2 linked regions of the Homo sapiens genome follow. The protein of the gene in region 1 purifies or fractionates together with the protein of each later gene. This does not show direct contact. Each region holds a gene or a part of one and is shown in the gene's direction. Other genes may lie near its edges.

The links.
Region 2: the proteins of NUDT21 (region 1) and PCF11 fractionate together in Homo sapiens (co-fractionation; 2 studies listed by BioGRID). This does not show direct contact.

Annotation. Positions count from the first base shown.
Region 1 is NC_000016.10:56,441,333-56,448,332, reverse strand, and holds part of NUDT21 (cleavage and polyadenylation specificity factor subunit 5), read left to right. Parts: intron 1-343; coding exon 344-544; intron 545-1,643; coding exon 1,644-1,707; intron 1,708-7,000. UniProt on the Homo sapiens protein: Component of the cleavage factor Im (CFIm) complex that functions as an activator of the pre-mRNA 3'-end cleavage and polyadenylation processing required for the maturation of pre-mRNA into functional mRNAs.
Region 2 is NC_000011.10:83,158,053-83,175,260, forward strand, and holds part of PCF11 (pre-mRNA cleavage complex 2 protein Pcf11), read left to right. Parts: intron 1-3,274; coding exon 3,275-3,400; intron 3,401-5,626; coding exon 5,627-5,815; intron 5,816-6,154; coding exon 6,155-6,349; intron 6,350-7,547; coding exon 7,548-8,662; intron 8,663-9,072; coding exon 9,073-9,256; intron 9,257-9,362; coding exon 9,363-9,846; intron 9,847-10,375; coding exon 10,376-11,943; intron 11,944-13,765; coding exon 13,766-13,862; intron 13,863-17,208. UniProt on the Homo sapiens protein: Component of pre-mRNA cleavage complex II, which promotes transcription termination by RNA polymerase II.

The DNA of each region.
Region 1 (7,000 bases):
TTATTAGCCAAATTGGTAATGTTGAAATAGCAGCCATGGTATAAAACCAGAGGATTACTAATGTTCAGATAACCATTTCTCTAAGCATTTAAGGATAGTGTTATCTACACTTGAAAGTTAAAGTATGGAGGAGCAGCTTGATCTAATGGAAGCTCTGGCTTTAAGAGTCCAGAGAGCAAGATTCCAGTCTCTGCTGTTTCATTAACTTTAGTTAACTGTACAAATCCTGTGTCTGAGTACAATATATGCACTTTTTTTGTACCATGGTTTCTTTATGCTAATGTCTGTCATGGTAAATTACATTCTTCAGTTCTCATGTTAGATGTTTGTCTTCGGATCACAGGTACCCTCTTACCAATTATACTTTTGGTACAAAAGAGCCCCTCTACGAGAAGGACAGCTCTGTTGCAGCCAGATTTCAGCGCATGAGGGAAGAATTTGATAAAATTGGAATGAGGAGGACTGTAGAAGGGGTTCTGATTGTACATGAGCACCGGCTACCCCATGTGTTACTGCTGCAGCTGGGAACAACTTTCTTCAAACTGTAAGTAGTGTTGGAAATTAACAGCAAGACAGTTTTTAGTAGGATTGCTGTTTATGCAGCTCTGGAATACAATTTTAGCCCTCGGTCATTCATTTCAACAAACACTGCTGTTAATGATGTCTTTAGAAAGAGAAAATCATGAGTAATTTTTCTCCATTGCAGTGCTCATTTATTTTCCTAACTAGTAATCTGTATGTTTCTGTATGTTGTTGATGTTAATGATTGAGCTTGGTAGAAACCCCATGGAATAGTTGAGTCCAAGATCAATGTCTAGATGTCATTGTAGCATTACCAAGAACAATTGATATTTCTTTCTTGGTATGATTAGCATTTCCTGTTCTTAAGATGACTTAGGTTTTTGTGGATAACAGTTTAGTGTTTTATCATTTAAGCTCCTACATCTCTCAAACATTTGATCCGTAACTATTTGACTAGATTATACCAAAAAGAAAAGTCTCCAATACTTAGATGACGTTCTTGAAAAAGTTTCCCATTCTTTAGGCCTAAAGAATGTGATCCATTCCTCTCTGAGCATTTCTAGACTCCATTATCATCAGATAGCTCCCAGAGAGGAGATTGGGATGGACTGGTGGTTAGCAATTTTGTTTATGTTTGTGCTATGTTATATATTCTGTTTGTTTAAAACTAGGGTTTATGTGATGGGTACATATGGACATAAAGTTGGAAAAAATAAACACTGTATACTCCAAAGGTGGGGAGGGTGAGGGGGAGGCGAGGGTTGAAATACTTCCTATTGGATGTTATGTTCACTGTTTCAGTGATGGGTTCACTAGAAGCCTAAACCTTAGCATTACACAATATACCTATGTAACAAACTTGTACATGTACCCGTTGAATCTACAATAAAATAAAAATAAATATATACGAAGAGGAAAAAAACCTAGGGTTTGTATACTGTTAGTCTGGGGAATTGACATGAATTCAAGCATATTCTCCCCCTTCACTTTGATACTTGTTTTGATTGCCTTATTATGCTGAAATATGTTCTTAGTGACTTGGTAGAAATAACAATTATTGTGTTATTTGTTATCTCCAAATTGTATTAAGTTGAAAGCTGAAATTCTTAACTTTTATACAGACCTGGTGGTGAACTTAACCCAGGAGAAGATGAAGTTGAAGGACTAAAACGCTTAATGACAGAGGTATTTTTCTGTTTAACCACTTTGAATACCATCAACTTACTAGTTATTTGGCTTTTAATGTCTTGTAAAAAGGATGCTTATTTTGGAATATTTAGTTTTCAATAAATACAACTTAAACTCCAGAAGGTTAGTACAATGTTGATTTTTTTTTACAAGTTGAAGTTACACTTATTTCAATTTTTAAAATGTTAAACTGTGTCACAGCAATGGTAAATTAAAACTGACATTTAAGTATTACTGTGCTAGACACTGTTCTGAGTGCTTTACATGCGCTAATTCCTTTAATCACCACCACAACTGTAGGAAGTAGATATTATTAAGTTTAAATTACTTCTTGTTATATAGCTAGTGTGTTGTAGAGCCAGAGGTTTGAATGCAGGTAGTTTTGTTCAAGAGTAGGCCTCTATAGAATTTTGAAAAGAGAAAGATGCCTGTGTTTTCACTTTTTTCACATATTTTTTAGACTTTGCCCAAATTATTCTACTTTTTAAAAATCATTGTAATGCCTGCATGTAAAGACTTGGGGCCAAATGCATAGATACTGAGGATTTTGAGATTGTAAATTGTTTTCAATGTTAGTTTTCTTCTTTAACATTCAATTGCCGCCTGCCCCTGTTACAAAGCTCATATATTCTCTGTGCAAAAAGCTTGGCAAACACAGAAAAGCAAAGGAGAAACAAAACTAAAGTCACCCGTAATTCTCCCACTTTTGACCTATTGGTTTGTCTTTCTAGTATTTCTAAAAATGTATTATAACTCTTAAACATTTTCCTGTGCTTGGACTTCCATTTATATAATGTATGGTACAAAGATATAAGTCCATTAAGGTTGAGGGAGTGCAAAATGAGAGAATCACAAAAGCAAAATTTTTGGAAACTGGAAAACAGATGGGCAAATTATAACTAACTTAGCAGAAACCTTAGTCCAGCAGACAGGCAGGCAGAATCTAGCATTGCAGAGTACCAGAATGACTGAGGAACTGAAGGTGCTAGGTACTTATGAAAGTGGGGGCATGCATGGGCTGAAAACTGGACTGGTTCAAAGTATATATGGAGTATATTTATACAGGTTGTGTATTCCTTATCTGAGAGCTTGGGACCAGAAGTGTTTAGCTGCTATTTGATAGCACAACAGGGTGACTATAGTCAATAATCACTTAATTGTAAATTTAAAAATAACTAAAAGAGTATAATTGGATTGTTTGTAGCACAAAGGATAAATGCTTGAGGGGGTGGATATCCCATTCTCCATGATGTGAATATTACGCATTGCATGCCTGTATCAAAACATCTTGTGTACTCAAAAAAATTAAAAATTAAAAAAGTGGTTAGGATTTGGGATTTTTTTCAGGTTTTGGAATATTTGCATTATACTTACCAGTTAAGCATCCCATATACAAAACTTGAAATGCTCCAATGAGCATTTCCTTTTTTTTTTTCTTGAGACGAAGTCTCTCTCTTGTCACCCAGGCTGGAGTGCAATGGTGCAATCTTGTCTCACTGTCACCTCCGCCTCCCGGGTTTAAGCGATTCTCCGGCCTCAGCCTCCCGAGTAGATGGGATTAAAGGTGCCTGCCTCCACGCCCAGCTAATTTTTGTATTTTTAGTAGAGACAGGGTTTCACCATGTTGACCAGGCTGGTCTAGAACTCCTAACCTCAGGTGATCTGCCTGTCTTGGCCTTCCAAAGTGCTGGGATTACAGGCATGAGCCACCACGCCCGGCCTGAGCATGTCCTGTGAGCATCATGTCAGTGCTCAAAAAGTTTGAGATTTTGGAGTTTCAGATTGGGATGTTCAACCTGTGTATCTAGATTGTCTTCCCCACTCTGTAATTAGGCAAAGACTGGCTGATGATTCTCTGTAGTAATTGAATCAGAGAACAACTAGCAATGAAAAAAGTTTAGGGGATGGGGAGAATAAGAGTTCCTATTCTGAATAGTCAGACTCTTGGACCTCTATTAGGCTGACAGAATGTTAACAATTAGGCTTGTTTTTTTTTTTTTTTGTTTTTGTTTTTTTTTTTTTGAGGCGGAGTTTCACTCTTGTCGCCCAGGCTGGAGTGCAGTGGCGTGATCTCCAATGTGAGCAATGGTTGCTCACTGCAACCTCTGCCTCCTGGGTTCAAGCGATTCTCCTGCCTCAGCCTCCAGAGTAGCTGGGATTACAGGTGCCCACTACCATGCCCAGCTAATTTTTATATTTTTAGTAGAGATGGGGTTTCACCGTGTCGGCCAGGTTGGTCTCGAACTCCTGACCTCAGGTGATCTGCCTGCTTTGGCCTCCCAAAGTGTTGGGATTACAGGTGTGAGCCACTGTCAGTCTAGGCTTACTTATTTTTTTTAGAGACAGGGTCTCACTCTGTTCCTCAGGCTGGAGGATGGTGGTGTGATCATAGCTCACTGTAACCACAAACTCCTGGGCTCAAGCAATCTTCCTGCCTCAGCTTCCTGAGTAGCTAGGACTGCAGGTATGTGCCCATGATGCCTGGCTAATTAAAGAAAAGTTTTTTATAGAGATGAGATCGTGCTATGTTGCCCAGGCTGGTCTCAAACTCCTGGCCTGAAGCAGTCCTCCCAAAGCATTGGGATTACATGCATGAGCCACCAGGCCCAGCCAACAATTAGATTTATATATCCCAGGCTGAGGGTTGGAATTCTTGTTTCTGGAAAAAGTGACCAGTCCAAGAAAAACTTCAGATACTGCCATTTGGGAGCTGTCTTCGTCTGTTTAATGTTGCTATAACAGAATACCTGAGGCTGGGTAATTTATAAAGAAAAAGATTTATTTGGCTCACCAGTTCTGGTGGCAAGATTGGGCAGCTGGTGAGGGCTTCATGGTGCTTCCACTCATGGCAGAAAGCAAAATGGGAGTGGGCATGTGCAAAGAGACATGGCAAGGGAGGAAGCAAGAGTGAATCCAGGAAGCCACACTCTTTAACAACCCTCTCTCCAGGGAACTAATCCATTCCTGATGGAGGAAGGGTATTAAACTATTCATGAAGGATCCACCTGCATGACTCAAACACCTTCCACTAGGCCCTGCCTGCCAACACTGTCACATTGGGGATCAAATTTCAACATGAGTTTGGGGGCAGGGAGACAAACCATATCCAAACCAAAGCAAGAATTTTCTATAGAAATAATGTAGTCCTGGGCCAGGCGCGGTGGCTCACACCTGTAATCCCAGCACTTGGGGAGGCCAAGGCGGGTGGATCATGAGGTCTGGAGTTTGAGACCAGCCTGACCAGCATGGTGAAACCCCGTCTCTACAAACATAAACAAATTAGCTGGGCGTGGTGGCGGGTGCCTGTAATCCCAGCTACTCGGGAGGCTGAGGCAGGAGAATCAGTTGAACCCAGGAGGTGGAGGTTGCAGTGAGCCAAGATCATGCCACTGCACGCCAGCCTGGGCAACAGAGCAAGACTTCGTCTCAAAAAAAAAAAAGAAAAAAAAATATTGTAGTCCTATCACTCATGCACACAGAGGTGACAATTAAGCATCTTGTTGCTTCTCCCTTGTGAGTACACAACCAACTATCACCAGGCTTTTGGAGAAAACTTCTTAACAAGAAAAAGATCAAAAGAAGCAAAAGGACCTCAACAGAAGCAGAAAATTCAACCATTGACAAAACTATGATTAATATTCTTGGTGAGATGAGAGGAGATTTTGCACCTGTGAAACAGTGCTATTAAAAAGACATTTTAGCCAAGAAAAACCTCATGGATATTAAAAAAATGTTGGAAGAAATGAAAAATTCAGTAAAGAGTTAAGAGGTTCATTCTACCAGAAAATAGAATGAAAAGATAAAAAGATAGAATGTAGGTAAGAATAGATAAAATTAGTGGGTCATTCTAGAAGGACCAATATAAACTATAGATAAATAGAACAGAGTAAAAGGAAGAATTAGCAAAGCATAATTAGAGAAAATTTCTCAAACCTCAAAGGGCATGAGTTTTGAGATTGAGAAGACCTACTGGCCTTGCCTCTATAGTGAATGTTTAAAGATCCACGCAAAGGCATATCATCATGACGTTTTAGATCCTACAAACGAAAATAAAAACAAAAAGATGTAAAAGCTTCCAAAGTGGGAGGTGGAGGATTGGTAAGCAGAGAGGTTAAATGCAAAACATCAAAATCAGAAATTGCATTAAACTACCCAGAAATAATTCTGGAAGCTAAGGGATGGTGGAGTGTTGTCTTTGTAATTTTGAGAGAATATAATCTCTGTCCTAGAATTTTCTAATCAAACTATAAATCAAGTGTGTGGGTAAAAGTTACTTCTAGACATGCAGAGTTTCAAAAAGTTACATCTCTTGTACCTTTTCTCAGGAAGCTACTAGAGGGTGTTCACCCCCAAAATGGAATAAAATAAGGACTCCAGCTGTGAAGCAGGGTTGAGACTATCAAGTACAGATTACAGCAGGATGATAGAAAAACGTGTCTTAGGCTGGGTGTGGTGGCTCATGCCTGCAATTTCAGCACTTTGGGAGGCTGAGATGGGCAGATCACGTGAGCCTAGGAGTTTGAGACCACCCTTGGCAACATGGTGAAAAATTAGCCTGGTGCTGTGGCTTGCATCTGTAGTCCCAGCTACTCGGGAGGCTGGGGGCAGGGGAGGCTGAGGTGAGAGAAGCGCTTGAACCCATGAGGTGGAGGTTGCAGTGAGTGGAGATCGCGCCATTGCGCTCCAGCCTGGGTGACAGATCTTGTCTTGAAAAAAGGAAAAACATGTCTTAGAAAAGATGAAATTAATAGAATAACTGACAATTGATATTTGAATTGGGAAGAAATTTAAGTTATCATGGAGAATGTGGGAAATGAATTTAGTGATAGCAAAGGAAATGAAAGTTATTAACTAAAGAATAGGACAGTTGAACAAGTAAGGAGATACGGTTTGCTAATCATTGCTCTGTTGTGACTGATCTACCGGATCATACTAACTTAAATACTGAATATTGACTTAACCAAATATTGATAATGGGAAGATGGTGGAAGAAAAAGTGTAACTAGGATGTGTGATTTTAATATCTAAATTCTCATTCATAGTAGAGGGTTATAGGCTTTTAAAAAATGTTTTTAAAATGAAAATCAAGAGGCCAGGCGCAGTGGCTCACGCCAGTAATCCCAGCACTTTGGGAGGCCGAGGCAGGTGGATCACAAGGTCAAAAGATCGAGACCATCCTGGCCAACATGGTGAAACCCTGTCTCTACTAAAAATACAAAAAAGCTGGGTGTGGTGGCGGGCACCTGTGGTCCCAGCTACTCGGGAGGCTGAGGCAGGGGAGTCGCTTGGA
Region 2 (17,208 bases), on another chromosome or scaffold:
TGGGTTGGAAGGAGGTGAAGGGGGACCTGGGAGCGAGCTGTTGGTGGGTGGGAATAGGGATTTGGCCCCGAGTGGAGCAGCCGCCTGTTAGGAGCCCAACATGGCGCCTGAAAAGCACATGATGCGAAAGGGAAGAGAGGAGAATCCATTCCCTGCCAGCCAGGCAGCTGCTCACTCCCGTCAGCCCCATTTTGGGGTGGGGGCGGCTAGATAAAACTTTTATTCTCCTATTGGAGGGTCTAATTTGTCCCAAAATAGGGGCAAGTGGGGTTGAGGGTGGGGTTTGGGTGGGGGGAGGAGATCTTATCCAACCTGTAGGTGGAGAACTGGCCCAGAGGGTAACAAGTACTTGCAGTTTCTCTGAAAAGTTCAGTCCCTCCTCCTCTTCCTTTTCTCTTTTTCTCCCTTCCCTGATAGCGAAGGAGTGTTTTTCTTTACCCCTTGACAGAAGTGGTCCTCTGCCACCTTATATTTCCCTGTAGTCCTCCTCTTCTGTGGATTCATATGGGAGCGATATGTCATTTAAGTAAAGTTACTGTTCAACTTAGTTACAATGAGTTTTAATAGCGTCCCAGTGCTACATTTTATTTTTCAAGCTTGTACTCACGGTTTAGTTTTTTCTAGTTGTTAGTGATTGCAATTATCAGGATGAGCCTCCTTTTAGCAGAGTGAACCCCTTTTTAAAGGCCACTTTAACAACAACCACCAATATATTGTTTAGAGACGGTTTCTGTCTAGTGTAAAACTTGAGTGGTCTGACTCTAATAAATGGTTTTGAAATGTGTGACTGGTATTATAAAATTTGTGAATAAAACATATAAAATATGTATTTGTCTTTTTTATTTACCTTTGTAAGGTGTAGAATCTGTTTCCAAGACTTATTTTTATCTACGTGGTTGTGTGTTTTAAACAAAAGTCTTTAAGTGACTTGGGTTCATTCTTCTTTAGGTTCCATCCACTCTTTTGGGTAAACCTCTTCACAAGATACACGGTTTCAGGTGGTCCTTTCATAATTTAAAGAGGACGAAAAGGAAGGGTTTTTTTTCTTTTTCCTTTTAAGGACCTCAACAAGTTTATCATGCTCAGTCTGACAGCTAAGATACAAGTTTTCGTTCACTTTTTCCTGTGAAAGTGTATGTAAAACAGCTTTTTTTTTTAAGTGTGAGATTTAAAAAGGAAGCATTCGTCATACTCAACATGCTTTTTATTGATACCACAAACATCTTGGACATGAAAACTTAGTTTTTGCCTTGTTGAAGGCTTAACTTGACATTAAATGCCTTAAAGCACTTGTGTTTTTAAGGCAAAAACATTGATTTTTAAAATCTAATTACCTCGTATCTTGGGATTTAATATTCCACAGCGCCTAATATTTAGCAGCTCAGGTTGTCACTCAAAGAACCTTGCTGGTTTTTAATGGATCCGGAAGACCTTCGAGAACCGAAAACTAAATGCTGAATATAGTGACCACATAAAACTTGTGTTTGTATATCGCTACACAGTGATGAAAATAGATGAGCTCTTTGCTGGTAAAAGACAGCTGAAATTTTGGGGGCACACGTTTCCTGGTTATTTTTGTAAAGCCAGGTTGAGGAAAAGATGTAAAAGTCACTTTGGGGGATCTATCTTAATCTGGGTTGGGATCGAGGGTGAGGGGAGGGATTTCCGTTATTTGGTAGCAAACTGGCCTGGTTTTGTGTTTTGGAGGTGAATGTTTGTGTCCTTATTCTTTAGCTTCTCTGCGTTACTAAACTTAAAGGATTCACACTTAATTTGACTCCTCCCAAGAGAGAGCAGTAGCGAAAAATAATACATAAAAGGACTTCACTTGTACAATAAAAAATTAGCCTACTTAACAGACTTTGGTGTTTAAGAGAGCCTGTTTATCTTCATAAGTACAATAATGACTAAAATGGTGTAAAACATGACATGGTAAGGTAAAGACACAGCAGTAAACCATTTGACATGTTCGTACTTAATATAGTTGACCCACATGCAGTGGGTGAACCCTTTTATTAGACAGTACCTTAAAAGAAATTTTTCATACAAAGTTATTCAAAGCTTCCCTTAGCCAACTTTTGGTTGTAAAGGTGTTATCAGAAGCAAGAGCATTTCCACACACTTGTATGGGCAATTGGTTTTATTATATATGATGGCATTGTGTACTCCAGAACTGTGAGCCTACCCTAGCTTCAGGCAGCTATGGGTAAGTGTTACTTAGGGTTAAGATTCCTATACACGTGGGGTGGGTAAATGGGGATAACCTAAGTTTTTTTTTTTTTTTTTTTTTTGTCTTTTTTTTTTATTTTAAATCATGGGTGCTCCTTTGGAGTCAGAGTTAAAACTATTATGGTGTGTCTTAATGCTCCTCAACAAGTCTGTGAACCTGCTGATGCTTTCTGGAAGCTTGCTGTGCCTTCTAAAAGCCAGTGGTGGGTAGGCATTGCAGTTGAACTGGGGCAACATTTCTTTACTTTGGAAAGGGCCACCTGTATCAGCATCACCACACTGGCTCTGCACAAATTTATAACCCCTGGTTTGTGCATGTCAGAGGAAAATATCTCGGCGGAGAGTCCAGGCTGTGAAGAAAATCTTCAGGACAAATCCTGGTTTCCAGAGTCAAGTTCAACCTGATTTACATGATTCAGCGGCTGCTCCATCCAGTTTTTCTTGTCTGAGTAACAAACTTGCAACTTCCTGCATGTTCGTGTGCAAGTTTCAGTGTTTTGCCATTGACTTCCTAGGTGAAGTGTTTTTAATTTTTGTTCATTTGGATTATAGAGAAGTAATCCTAATGATTTTACAGGTAACAAAAGCTTCATAGACTTGAACATATAAAATATGCCCATGGAAATTAGTTTCTACAAGAGGTCTAAAAACTGCTTTGAGTGTAGGCACACCGTTGTAAGTTAATATGGGTCACAAAACTGACACTTGGATTATATAAAGTAATTTTCCCTCGCCTCCTCCTTATTTTTGTCACTTAAAACACAGGTCTTTTTACCACATGAACTTGAAATTTCATTGAGTGTTAAATGAGTATATTAGGGATTACAGCTGTTGTTCATCCTGGTAATTCTGAGCTTTTTTGTGCTCAACTAAGGATTGTGAGAGTTGAGAGCTTGATTGAACACTTAAGTTTCATAAAGATTACTTCAAAAATATTTAGTATCAACAAAAATAGAGGTCTGTATTGTAGGTTTAAAAACTCATTTTTAAATAATTATTTGGTGGTAATTCATTATACTAAACTTCTCAGTTTCTTTTTATTCAGGCTCCTTCCTCAGAGAAGCTTCCTGTTATGTACCTTATGGATTCTATTGTGAAAAACGTTGGAAGAGAGTATCTCACTGCCTTTACTAAAAATCTAGTTGCAACATTTATTTGTGTGTTTGAAAAGGTACATATGCATTTAGAAACATTTGCGTTTTTTTTTAAAAAATGTGTTCCTGATTAAATAAATATTTGCTTTGTGTTGGGTTTTCTTGGGTGGTGAAATGTTTTATACTTTTGGACATTTATCGTTAGTACCATTTCAAAGAAAGAGGCTGAAGTTAATGTTTTATGTTAGATTTTTAGAACAGATTCTAGGGGTTTACATTATCCATTTAAGAATAGATGGATTTGCTTTTAGAATTGTGCTTTTTAAAAAAATTGAGTGTGTTCATTTGAACATCTGTTTCATCACTTACAAACCAGGCAAAAAGATCTGAAATCGTCAAGAGTAATTAAAATTTCATTGTTTACATTTCTGGTGTTAGGATGTTGACTGTTCTCTTGGGGGGGTAAAAAGCATAATCCCTCAGTGTCTCAACCTGTGATTGGTTCCTGAAACTTGTGTGTTTTTTTGTTTTGTTTTCTGGAAATGTTTACTTTTGTTACATTGTTCAAGGTATGTTTTAGGTGAATGTTGTTGGTATGTGTGAATGGTGGACCAGTTAATTGCTGTTGGTTATTCTGGAAATACTTTTGCCCCTACCTTAGTGTTCAGAAATTAGGCTTATTTTTCATATCTAGAGATTGTAAATTTCTTCCATAACACTGTAACATGGTGGTTTGGTTAAAGCAGTATTATGTTGAGGAGGACAAGGGATTTGCTGAGGTAATTCTCTGCCTGTCAGGCTATATCTTTCACATTGAACAAAAAGGCACTTATGAGATACTTAGGTTTAAAGATTGTTTCCTAACGTCAATATTTGGTGGTAGTTATTATATTTTAGTAGATGAACACCTGTGTGTCAGTTGTCAGATTTGTAGAATTGGAATTTTTTTTGGAAGAACTATTCAGTATTAGATTTTACATGTTTATTAGAAAATAAGTAGTTGCTATTTGAGAAATGTTTTTAAGTTCTTAGAGAAAAACAGTATATGCAGAAGAAATCTGGAAAGCTCTATATCATATAGCATTAAAATGCTTGTTAATAGAATATTGTAGACATTTGCTGAATACTGCTAACCAGAGGCTGTAGTCTTAAGGAGAAGCTTAACCAACCTCTTGGTTTCGGTTTCAGTATGTTCAAATTCACTTGGGTGTTTGGTAGCATACCTTTACTGAATCTAACTGGGCATTAACATGACAGTTGATTAAAATGACCTTGTAATAAATACATTATTATCTGAAGACTTATGAATATAGTTAAGGCTTTACTGTCTATCCTAATGTTGAAAATCTAACTCAGTTTTCCCAAGTCCTAGGTTTCTTGATGGCGAATTTTCTTTCTTTTTCTTTTTTTTGTTTTGAGATGGAGTTTTGCTCTTGTTGCCCAAGCTGGAGTGCAATGGCACAATCTCGGCTCACTGCAACCTCCGCCTCCCGGATTCAAGTGATTCTCCTGCCTCAGCCTCCCGAGTAGCTGGGATTACAGGCATGAGCCATCATGCCTGGCTAATTTTGTATTTTTAGTAAAGACGGGGTTTCACCATTGTTGGTCAGGCTGGTCTTGAACTCCCTCAGGTGATCCACCTGCCTCGGCCTCTCAAAGTGTTGGAATTACAGGCGTGAGCCACCGTGCCTGGCAATGGCAAATTTTCTAAACATTTTTACGCCATCACAAACCTGAACAGAAAAGTTATTTAAAACTAAGGCTTATCAGTGGTTAAGATTTTGTGAATTTCAGTTGTTAAAGTGCTTTCCACACCACAATATCTTGTTCCTATGTACCCAACCATATAGTATTGCTGAGCATTAGTTAGTGAGATAGTTTTGCTTTAATTTTAACTTTGTACTACTATGTAAATAATTTAAAACATTTAAGCCATCAGGTAATCAATTTTTCTAGTTGTTTTATATTTTTTAGTTTTATATTTTCTAGTTGTCTTACATTTTTTTTTCCCAGAGAAAGAGTAACTTTAGGAATATTATACTAAGCTCTAAGATGTGGAAACGTTTTGTATATAGAAAGGCTCACCTGGTTGGTTGCTTGCATGAAGGCTAGGTGAAAATGGTTTTAATTACTCTGTTTTTGAAGGAGAAATGCACCTTTAATAAATTATTACTGTTGTATATACTTACCAATGGGTAGTACAGTTCTGTATGTGAAGTAGAGCAGATTTATATAACTTATATTTAATATATAAAATATTCTATAGTAACTTAACAAGCCATAGAATTGTTCTGTTGTTCTAGGTGGATGAAAATACTAGGAAAAGTTTATTTAAGTTACGTTCTACATGGGATGAAATATTCCCTTTGAAGAAACTTTATGCCCTGGATGTCAGAGTCAATTCATTAGATCCTGCTTGGCCTATTAAACCTCTACCCCCCAATGTGAATACGTCTAGCATCCATGTGAATCCTAAATTTTTAAATAAATCGGTAAGTTTTAATATGAATAGTAAGTAACATACTTTTAAGTATCACATTTTGAATTCTTCTGCAGAACTTACTGCCAGAAAGTCAAAATAGAATACTCGGTAGTGAATTGGTTCAATTTGAAAAAAAAAAAAATAGTGTGTATATGTTTGGAATTTTTATTTAGAAATATATTCACCTTGTTTAGGTATTATGTAACATTTATTTTGGGTTTTAAATTTCTGATAAGTTTTCTGTGTGATAGGAATTTGGATCATATTAAGAGTTAAGCTGATAATTTTTACTCCCTAGCTTCCGTTTTAGCTGATACGTTTTTCTTAAACAAATTGTCTTTTCTTATAGCCCGAGGAGCCTTCAACACCTGGTACAGTGGTCAGTTCCCCTAGCATCTCCACTCCTCCAATTGTTCCTGATATACAAAAGAATCTTACACAAGAACAACTAATAAGGCAGCAGTTACTGGCAAAGCAAAAACAGTTGTTAGAACTTCAGCAGAAAAAGCTGGAGCTTGAGCTAGAGCAAGCTAAGGCACAGTTGGTAAGTAAGGGAGATTGTCATTTTAAATATTTTAAACCTGTCTAACAATAGGGAAGTAATGTTTATGTTTGAATTTTATTAACATGTTACTTTTATTAATAGTGTACTCTTTTTTCACTTTTATTTTACAAATGAGTATATTTATTAGACTATACTTTTATATCTTTATTGTAAAATTCACTTGATTAAAAACTGCATAGGCCAGGCGCAGTGGATCATGCCTGTAATCCCAACACTTGGGAAGTCTGAGGTGGGAGGATCGCTTGAGTTTAGGAGTTTGAGGCCAGCCTGGGCAACATAGTGAGGCCCTACCAAAAAAAAAAAAATTAGCCAGGTGGGGTAGTGCATCCTTGTGATCCCAGCTACTCGAGAGGCTGAGTTGGAAGGATCACTTGCGGCTGCAGTGTGCTATGATTGCTTCACTGCACTCTAGCTTGAGTGACAGATCAAGACCCTGTCTCAAGAAAACCCTCCAAAAACTACAAAACTACACTATTTCCTCCAAACAGTTTTCTGTTAGATTGCTATCTTATAAAATAGCATCTTAATTTTGTTTAATCATTACATTATGTGGACTTAATATTTCAGTCCCAAGATGGTAGGCATGTTGTGGCAAATATTTTTGCATAGTCTTTAATGTTTTATGAGCTTATGCTCCATGAACAGAAATGACAAAATTAAGGAGGCCAGGAAGATTATATCTTTCTACACATAAATGACTTTATACTAAGTTATTTTGCTTAGCATCTGAGCTTATTCGACAGTGAGGTGCAGGAAGGCAGAATTTTATAAGTTCATTAATAGCACCACTTTGGGAGAAACTAAATTTTAGGACTTAGAATTTAGCTGAAATGACTCTGATTCTTGTGCAGCCGGAGTGTAGTGATTTAGCAATTTCTTAGGAGCAGTATGGCTCAGAATCCTGAACAATAAGGAAGAGAAACAATTTTTTTTCATTCTATTTAGAGATTATATTATAAAGTCTCAAAAAATACTAGTAAGAAATAATGGGCAACTTAAATCATGGACTTTTTCTTTTCATTGTAATCTCAATTTATACATTATAAGTGTACAATTTAAATGTAGTGTTGAGTAAATATATTTATTGAATAAAGCATTATCTTCTTCAGTTGTTTGCAATTTCTTGACAATCTGCATGTTCTGCAGTGTTAACATGAACATTTATTTTGTGTTTTAGGCAGTTTCTCTTAGTGTTCAGCAGGAAACATCCAATTTAGGTCCTGGATCTGCACCATCCAAATTACATGTTTCACAGATTCCCCCTATGGCAGTTAAAGCTCCTCATCAGGTTCCTGTGCAATCTGAGAAAAGCCGTCCAGGACCATCCTTACAAATTCAGGATTTAAAAGGAACTAACCGGGATCCTCGTCTGAACAGGATAAGCCAACATTCTCATGGAAAAGATCAGAGTCACAGGAAAGAATTTCTAATGAACACATTAAACCAGTCTGATACTAAGACAAGTAAAACTATACCCTCTGAAAAACTAAATTCATCCAAGCAAGAAAAAAGTAAATCAGGTGAAAAAATAACCAAGAAAGAACTTGACCAATTAGATTCTAAATCGAAATCGAAATCGAAATCACCCTCACCTTTGAAAAACAAATTATCTCACACAAAAGACTTGAAAAATCAAGAATCGGAAAGTATGAGGTTGTCTGATATGAACAAGAGAGATCCAAGATTAAAAAAACATCTTCAGGATAAGACCGATGGCAAAGATGATGATGTGAAAGAGAAGAGAAAAACTGCAGAAAAAAAGGATAAAGATGAGCACATGAAGTCATCCGAACACAGACTGGCTGGAAGTAGAAATAAAATCATAAATGGCATTGTACAAAAACAGGATACAATAACAGAAGAGTCAGAAAAACAGGGGACAAAACCAGGGAGATCGAGTACTAGAAAGCGATCAAGATCTCGATCACCCAAGTCTAGGTCACCAATTATACATTCCCCAAAGAGAAGAGATAGGCGGTCACCCAAACGAAGGCAAAGAAGTATGTCTCCAACATCGACACCTAAAGCTGGAAAGATTCGCCAATCTGGAGCTAAGCAGTCACATATGGAAGAGTTTACACCACCTTCTAGGGAAGACAGAAATGCTAAGAGAAGTACTAAACAGGATATTCGGGATCCAAGGCGAATGAAAAAGACTGAAGAGGAGCGACCACAAGAAACTACAAATCAGCATTCTACAAAGTCAGGCACTGAACCAAAGGAGAATGTAGAAAACTGGCAAAGTTCCAAGTCTGCCAAAAGATGGAAATCTGGTTGGGAAGAAAATAAAAGGTATGATGTTAACATTTTAAGTCAAGTGTAGTAGTGTATATGTTTCAAAAGATAGTGTTAATTTAAAAATTGGAAAATGTTTATTAGGTGCTATTAGTACTTTTTTTCCATCTAATTCTTACATCTCTGTGGGTTAAATACTATTATTATTTCTATTTTACAGATAAGGAAACTGAAGTTTAGAAAGGTTAACTAATCTACCTAAGGCTGCAGTCCAGGACATGCAAGAATCAGAATTCATATCTGTTTTTGCTGATTTCATATTTTGTGCTCTTAATCATTTATTTAATTACTTTTTGTGGTTACATATGCCCATTTTAACCATATCCTTTGAAAAGAATCTTTAAATATGGTCCTGAGTATTTTTTAAAAAAACATTTCAATGTAACATACTGCTTTTATGGTTTCAGCTTACAACAGGTTGATGAACATAGTAAACCTCCTCATCTGAGGCATAGGGAGAGCTGGTCAAGCACTAAAGGAATTTTATCACCTCGAGCCCCAAAGCAGCAACAGCATCGATTAAGTGTAGATGCCAATCTTCAGATTCCTAAAGAGTTAACTCTTGCAAGCAAAAGAGAATTACTTCAAAAGGTAGTTACTATGATTAATCCCATGTAGTCATCATTATCTATCGTCTATTTTTTTGGTATTTTTTTATATTTAAAATATTTTATTTCCTTTTATCACCCCTATACAGACGAGTGAACGTTTAGCATCTGGTGAAATTACACAGGATGACTTCCTTGTTGTTGTGCATCAAATTCGACAGCTATTTCAGTATCAAGAAGGTAAACATAGATGCAATGTACGGGATAGTCCTACAGAAGAAAATAAAGGTGGATTAAAAAAGAAACCTCTCTTATCTGATGCTGAATTAACCTACTATGAACATAAAGCAAAACTGAAAAGGACACAGGTTCAGCATTCATTTCCAAGACTTGATCTCTTAGATCCTGATATTTTTGACTACCCTTTGACTGATGCCTTGTTGTCTGGAATAGAATGTGAGCCATCCAAAAGTAAACATGCAAGTAGGAATAGTGGAGCACAGTTTGACAGAAAAGAACAATTTAGTGAAAGAGCAAGACGTCTTTCTCCTATATCTGGGAGTCGTACTTATGCTGAGAATCTTTCACCCCATGAGGGCCGGAGAAGACATGACGAGCAAGTCTCTGCTAAAGGTAGAAAAAGTTAAATCAGATTATGCCTATTGAATCACACAGCAGTGAAGGGAAAATGAACAAGCTAAGTGGGGATGGATTTTTGTGACTGTTCAGATTACCATTTTTTTTCCCATTTATTTTGTTATGTTTTTTCCCTTTAAGGAAAGGGAAGGGAAGGGAGCTAATATTTCTAAGGCCAGTTGTGTGTCAGGTACTTCATTAGGTATTTTTTATATGTAATTTGATTTAATCCTCACAACAATACAATGAAGTGTATATTCTCCCTATTTTACAGATAGGAAATAAAAGAGAGGTTAAATAACTTGCTCTCAAAATGAAATAATTAGTATGTTGATAGGATGGTAATTTTTTTGTTACTCAGGTGTGTCTGACTCTAGAGGGCATCCTCTTATCTGCTGCTTTACGCTGTCGGTCTCTCCTGCCCCTCTAATGTAGTGAGATAGTTATATATTTGGATAAACATTCATACGAAAATAGAAGATTTTAAGATAACTTTAGTGAAAATAATTTTTTTCCTTTTTAAAAGGTGTGCGAGAAGAGCAGAGATCTCCATTCAATGATCGTTTTCCACTTAAGCGACCTCGATATGAAGATTCAGATAAACCATTTGTAGATAGTCCAGCATCAAGATTCGCCGGCCTGGATACAAATCAGCGACTTACAGCTTTAGCTGAAGACAGACCGTTATTTGATGGACCTAGTAGGCCATCAGTAGCAAGAGATGGCCCAACGAAGATGATTTTTGAAGGACCCAATAAATTAAGCCCTCGAATTGATGGACCTCCCACACCAGCTTCTCTTCGGTTTGATGGGTCACCAGGACAAATGGGGGGAGGAGGCCCTTTGAGATTTGAGGGGCCACAAGGTCAGCTAGGAGGTGGGTGTCCTTTGAGATTTGAAGGTCCTCCAGGACCAGTGGGGACACCTCTGCGGTTTGAGGGCCCAATTGGTCAAGCAGGAGGAGGTGGTTTTCGGTTTGAAGGTTCCCCTGGTCTGAGGTTTGAGGGATCTCCAGGTGGTTTGAGATTTGAGGGACCAGGAGGCCAGCCTGTGGGTGGTCTGAGGTTTGAGGGACATCGTGGTCAACCTGTGGGTGGTCTAAGGTTTGAGGGACCTCATGGTCAGCCTGTGGGTGGACTTAGATTTGATAATCCCCGAGGTCAGCCTGTAGGTGGACTTAGATTTGAGGGGGGTCATGGTCCATCAGGGGCTGCGATTAGGTTTGATGGACCTCATGGTCAGCCAGGAGGTGGAATCAGATTTGAGGGCCCTTTGCTACAGCAAGGGGTTGGAATGAGGTTTGAGGGCCCCCATGGTCAGTCAGTAGCTGGTCTGAGATTTGAGGGACAACATAATCAACTTGGTGGGAACCTTAGGTTTGAGGGTCCACATGGTCAGCCAGGGGTTGGTATCAGGTTTGAAGGCCCTTTAGTCCAACAAGGAGGTGGAATGAGGTTTGAGGGTCCTTCTGTACCAGGAGGTGGCCTGAGAATTGAAGGGCCTCTGGGTCAAGGTGGTCCAAGATTTGAAGGTTGTCATGCTTTAAGGTTTGATGGGCAGCCAGGTCAGCCGTCACTCTTGCCAAGATTTGATGGATTACATGGTCAGCCAGGTCCTAGATTTGAAAGGACTCCTGGTCAGCCAGGCCCTCAGAGGTTTGATGGACCACCTGGACAGCAGGTTCAACCCAGATTTGACGGTGTACCTCAAAGATTTGATGGTCCACAACATCAGCAAGCATCAAGGTTTGATATTCCTCTTGGTCTTCAAGGCACAAGATTTGACAATCATCCTTCACAAAGGCTTGAATCAGTATCTTTCAATCAGACTGGTCCATATAATGATCCACCTGGCAATGCTTTTAATGCCCCATCCCAAGGACTACAGTTCCAAAGACATGAACAAATATTTGATTCACCTCAAGGACCAAATTTTAATGGACCACATGGCCCTGGAAACCAGAGTTTCTCTAATCCACTTAACAGAGCTTCTGGACACTATTTTGATGAAAAAAATCTTCAGAGTTCTCAATTTGGAAACTTTGGCAATATACCTGCTCCAATGACAGTAGGAAATATTCAGGCATCTCAACAGGTAAGTCTGTTATTCTAAAATTGCGTTGTATGCAGATAAGTTAACCATTTTTTAATGTTTCTAGGAGGGTTTTCAGGACATAGTTTATTGTGTAGATTGGAAAGAAGTTTTTAATGTACTCTAAAGCCACATGCTAAGGAAGTGGGATGAGCATCTTTTGGGGATGAAATTTGCAACTTAAATCCAAAATTGATTTTAGCTCTTTCAGGATCTAGGGAAATATCTCAATCAAACCCCCACCTCCAGCTCTGTTTTTTCTTTTTCCTTTTTTTTTGCTTTAAAGCTTTTGAGATATTATACAATTGTGTGTCATAGACCTCTACATTGCAGAACTGTTGAGCCCTGACGTGCTTTAAGGTAGCCATAGAATTGATTGAACTGTTCTTTGACCAAGAATTTCCTTAACCTGAGTTAAATAAGAAGATCAAATTGTGTCCCTGCTTTCACAGTCTACAATTCTTTTTTTTTGGTCCTTTTTTCCTACTTTTTACCACCTTTCCAGTCACTTCAGTTAAACACAATTGTTTGATATTAATGACAACATAGCGAATAGCCTTCCAAATACACTCTGGTTACGAAACATGCACTGTTACCTGTTGGTATTCTTTCACACTTGTTCTGTATACATTTTAAAATGCATACTGAGACAACTTTAAGGCAGTATGTTTACAATTTGTGATTAATTCGGTTGGTTTTGAATGACTACTTTTGCTTGCGTGCTGAAATTCTCCTAGGCTGAGTTTTACTTCTTTTCCAGGTGCAGACATTTTCTTACTATGACAGATTTATTTTATAGTAGTAAGATTGCATGGAAGAAAATACAAAATAAGAAAGATTTTAAAAGTACATTAGGAACATTATTGATAGAAAGTAGTCCTTCTGTTCATCTCTAATGGTACGAAAAAACAGTTGGCTTGCCTAGATTTACTCTACTGTATATCCTTGAAAGAAATGATACTCTTATTGACAGATACTCTAGAATGGTACTTACTTAGTCTTGTTTCTACATTACACAGAATCGGTGGGGTTTTTATTATGTGTACTCACTACCAAAAGTCCACATGTATACTGAACAAGGATTATAAATGGATATTTATTCACATACCAGCAATATGTAGAAGTCCTGCCTCCCTCTGGACTGCAAATGCTGTATTTGTATGCCAGTATAGTTCTTGCTCCATGACTATTCTGTTTTTTAACATTCCCTTTGACATCTTTTACAAGACCTTTTACAAGATTACTTTGTAATGTGGCTATAACCATGTGCAAAGATGATGGCCAAGCAAGATGCTTACCTGCTTGGTAATTCAGAATGCTAATTAGAACAGGCTTTTGATATCTGTGGAAAAGTGGCAAGGGTTAGGAGTTCTGGCCTCAGTTTTGCTCCTAACTAGCCCTTGTGATTGTGTATAGATCATATTGCATTATGTCAGTTCTTCTATTTGTAAAATAAGGGAAAGCACCAGCAAGGTAAAGTGACTTGTGTAAAGTAACACAGCTAGTTACCTTATATTTGCATGGTATCTTACAGTTTCCTTTTTGGGGGGCTACTTTGCCTCTCTAGTAGGTACCTTAAACTTTTCAAAGAAGTTTTAACCCATTCTCAGTAACTTATACCTCTATGAAACAGATAAGGGAAGGTTTTATTGTTCCTGTTTGTAGAAGACCTAGAAGTGAAGTGATGCAGCCAAGTTATCTTTCTAAATCTTTATTTATAAGCCAGGCCTTGTGACATCTATGAATATTTTTATGTAATTAGGATGTTAAAAGTTTTACTTGAAATATAGAAAGCATGTTCTTAAAATTAAGGTTTTTCTTAAAGGTTCTGAGTGGTGTTGCTCAGCCAGTAGCTTTTGGTCAAGGACAACAGTTTTTACCAGTTCATCCACAAAATCCTGGATTTGTTCAGAATCCTTCAGGTATGTACTTTCTGAACTTTGTTTTTCAAAAGACAAATGATTATTGTTTTGTTGAATAGCTAACTTTGTGAATTTTAGGAAATGACAGTTTTGCAAAGGTATATTTAATTTAGAGAAATTTAATCTGGCTGACATATTTTTGTTCCTTTTCTAAGTTTATTTACATTGTGGATGTGTATTCATAATGACCCTATTTACAGCTAGAGATGGTTAGCGGGGACTTGTAGTCCACTAAACAAAGGGAAGGAAACCTATTGGGTGGAAACTGGGAGTGGGAGGGAAGGTATGACATTTGTGTTGAGATAGAATGAAATAAATGACAGACCTTAGAAATCTCAGTGAATACTGAGGATACTGCATTAATAAAGTTGATTAATTTTTATGTTTTTGTGGGCACTCAAATAGCAAAAAGCGGCTTTCCTAGCCAGGTTCACTGATAAGCATCTTTGTTACTATGGGGTGATGCTTAGTACTAGATAAAAGGACTTTTAAAATGGATTTTAGTTTTATTTATTTATTTATTTATGAGGCAGAATCTTGCTCTCTTACCCAGTCTGGAGTGCAGTAGTGTCATATTGCCTCACTGCAGCCTCTGCCTCCGGGGTTCAAGCGATTCTCCTGTCTCAGCCTCCCAAGTAGCTGGGACTACAGGCGTGTGCCACCAGACTGGGCTAACTTTTGTATTTTTACGGGGTTTCACCATCTTGGCCAGGCTGGTCTCGAGCTCCTGACCTCAAGTGATCTGCCCACCTCAGCCTCCCAAAGTGCTGAGATGGCAGGTGTGAGCCACCATGCCCGGCAAAATGAATTTTAGTTTTAATATGTGGTAATAGGGAAGTACATACATTAGTGATACTTGCTTTCATTTCTGAATCATTGAAACAGCTGTTTCAGAAACATGCTTTACTGTAGTATTGAGTTAATCAGTTTACAATAAATTTATGGAGTTTTCCAAAACTTCTGAAGTAATTAGGAAATCCTAGCCAAGCTCTTTTTTATACATTAGTCCTTAAATTGTGTCAAGAAATTCAATGAATTTGGAAGCTTTTAAGTTTTAATTTCTACATGGACAATTATGACTAATTAATATTTGTTATTATTATTATTTTGTTACTATAATGAAAAGAGAAGGAAAGAATTTGGGATCTAAAGCCCAGAAGACCAGGGTTGGAATCTCTACTATGTTACTTTATAAATGCGCAGGCTTTAAGCAAGTATCTCCCCTGAGGTTCAGTTTTTTCCCTCTGTAAACAGCATATGGGCCGGGCATGGTGGCTCACGCCTATAATCCCAGCACTCTGGGAGGACGAGGCAGGTGGATCACAAGGTCAAGAGATGGAGACCATCCTGGCCAACATGGTGAAACCTCGTCTCTACTAAAAATACAAAAATTAGCTGGGTGTGGTGGTGCATGCCTGTAGTCCCAGCTACTCAGGAGACTGAGGCAGGAGAATCGCTTGAACCCAGGAGGTGGAGGTTGCAGTGAGCCAAGATCAGGCCACTGCACTTAGGCCTGGTGACAGAGTGAGACTCCGTCTCAGAAAAAAAACCAAAAACCAAAAAAAAAACATGATATGGTAGTATCAGTATTTGTCTGTTTTGTTGTTGTTTTTTTTTTTTTAGAGAATCAAATGATATAGTATATGCAAAAGTACTTTGTAACTTGTAACTTGTCAAGTGCTATATTAATGTATTTTCCTTTAGAACTCAGTTTTTATTGTTGAGCAGAGGATTTGTTATATTGGGGTTAGTGGCATGAGATGCTCTACAGAAACTACAAATTTTCTTGTTTCTTTCTTTCTTTCTTTTTTTTTTTTTTTTTTTTTTTTTTTTGAGACGAGTCTTGCTCTTGTCACCCAGGCTGGAGTGCAGTGGCATGATCTCAGCTCACTGCAACCTCTGCCTCCTGAATTCAAGCAGTTCTCCCGGGCTCAGCCTCCCCAGTAGCTGGGACTACAGGCACATGCCACTACACCTGGCTAATTTTTGTATTTTTAATAGAGGCAGAGTTTCACCATATTGGTCAGGGTGGCTTGAATCCTGACCTCAGGTGATCCACCTGCCTTGACCTCCCAAAGTGCTGGGACTACAGGTATGAGCCACTGTGCCCAGCCTTGTTTTGCTTTTACAACCTTGGGTTATATGTGTATGTGTACAGGACATAGCAGTGTCACAGAGGAAATCATAATTATTCCCCTTGTTAGGGGGTATTGAATGGGACATTAGGTGTGTCTTCATTCTTCAAGTTCTTCTTACTCTTAAAAGATGTGTCAACAGTTTTCAGTGTGCTATATTTAGCTTCTCTCAAGGTTCCTTCTCTAATTTGAAAGTGTAAACATCCCTTTTCTAGTAGGAAATATACCCATGTTCATTTTTCAGACATATATTAGTCATCTGCTGTATGCTAGGCAGTATGCTAGGATGAATTTAATAAGGTTCATCCTTCAAAGACCTTTATTTTTATTTTTAAAGTTTTTTTTTTTTTTTTAAAGAGGGTGCTCACTATGTAGCCCAGGCTGGTCTCAAACACCTGAACTCAAGCAATCCTCCCACCTCGGCCTCCCAAAGTGTTGGGTTTATAGGCATGAGCCACCACACTCGGCCTCAAAGAGCTTTATAATATAGAAAGGCTATTGATTTTTTTTTTTTGGTTTAACAAAAAACACATAATAATGCCAAACACCTCAGTTCCTTAGAAATATTAATTCATTTAACCTCATATCAATCTTAGGTAGGAACTATTATTACCCTTTTTACAGGCACGGGAAACTGAGGCATAGATAAGGAACTTGATTATGTCACACAACTAGAAAGTGGAATTTCTGGTTAAAATCCCTGGAGTCTGGTTCCACAGTTTATGCTGTTGGTTACTAGACTTGGCTGCCCTCAGACATCTGAATAGCTAATTGTGCATCTTAGGCATATAAATAGCTAATTTAAAGGAAAGTAAAGGTTAAACTAGTGAGTTAAATGTTACTGTAATTGATTATTGAAGTTGATCTCTTCATTCATGTATTCAGACATTTAGTTTGAACAGACATTAATTAGCCTACGATATATAAGGCAGTATGATAAATGTATACAGTGGTTAAGGGTAGGGATTATCTGTATGTGGATGCAAATTGAATTTCTGCCATTAAGAGGAATTTTTAGTGGTTCAGAACTTTTCTGTATAGGTGTAGTGAGATGCATCATAGTGACATACAAATACATTAAAATATTGTTTTCTTTTTTTTGAGATAGGGTCTTCTTGCTCTTTTGTCCAGGCTGGAGTACAGTGGGGTGATCTTGGCTCACTGCAACCTCCTCCCAGTTTCAAACGATTCTCATGCCTCAGCCTTCTGAG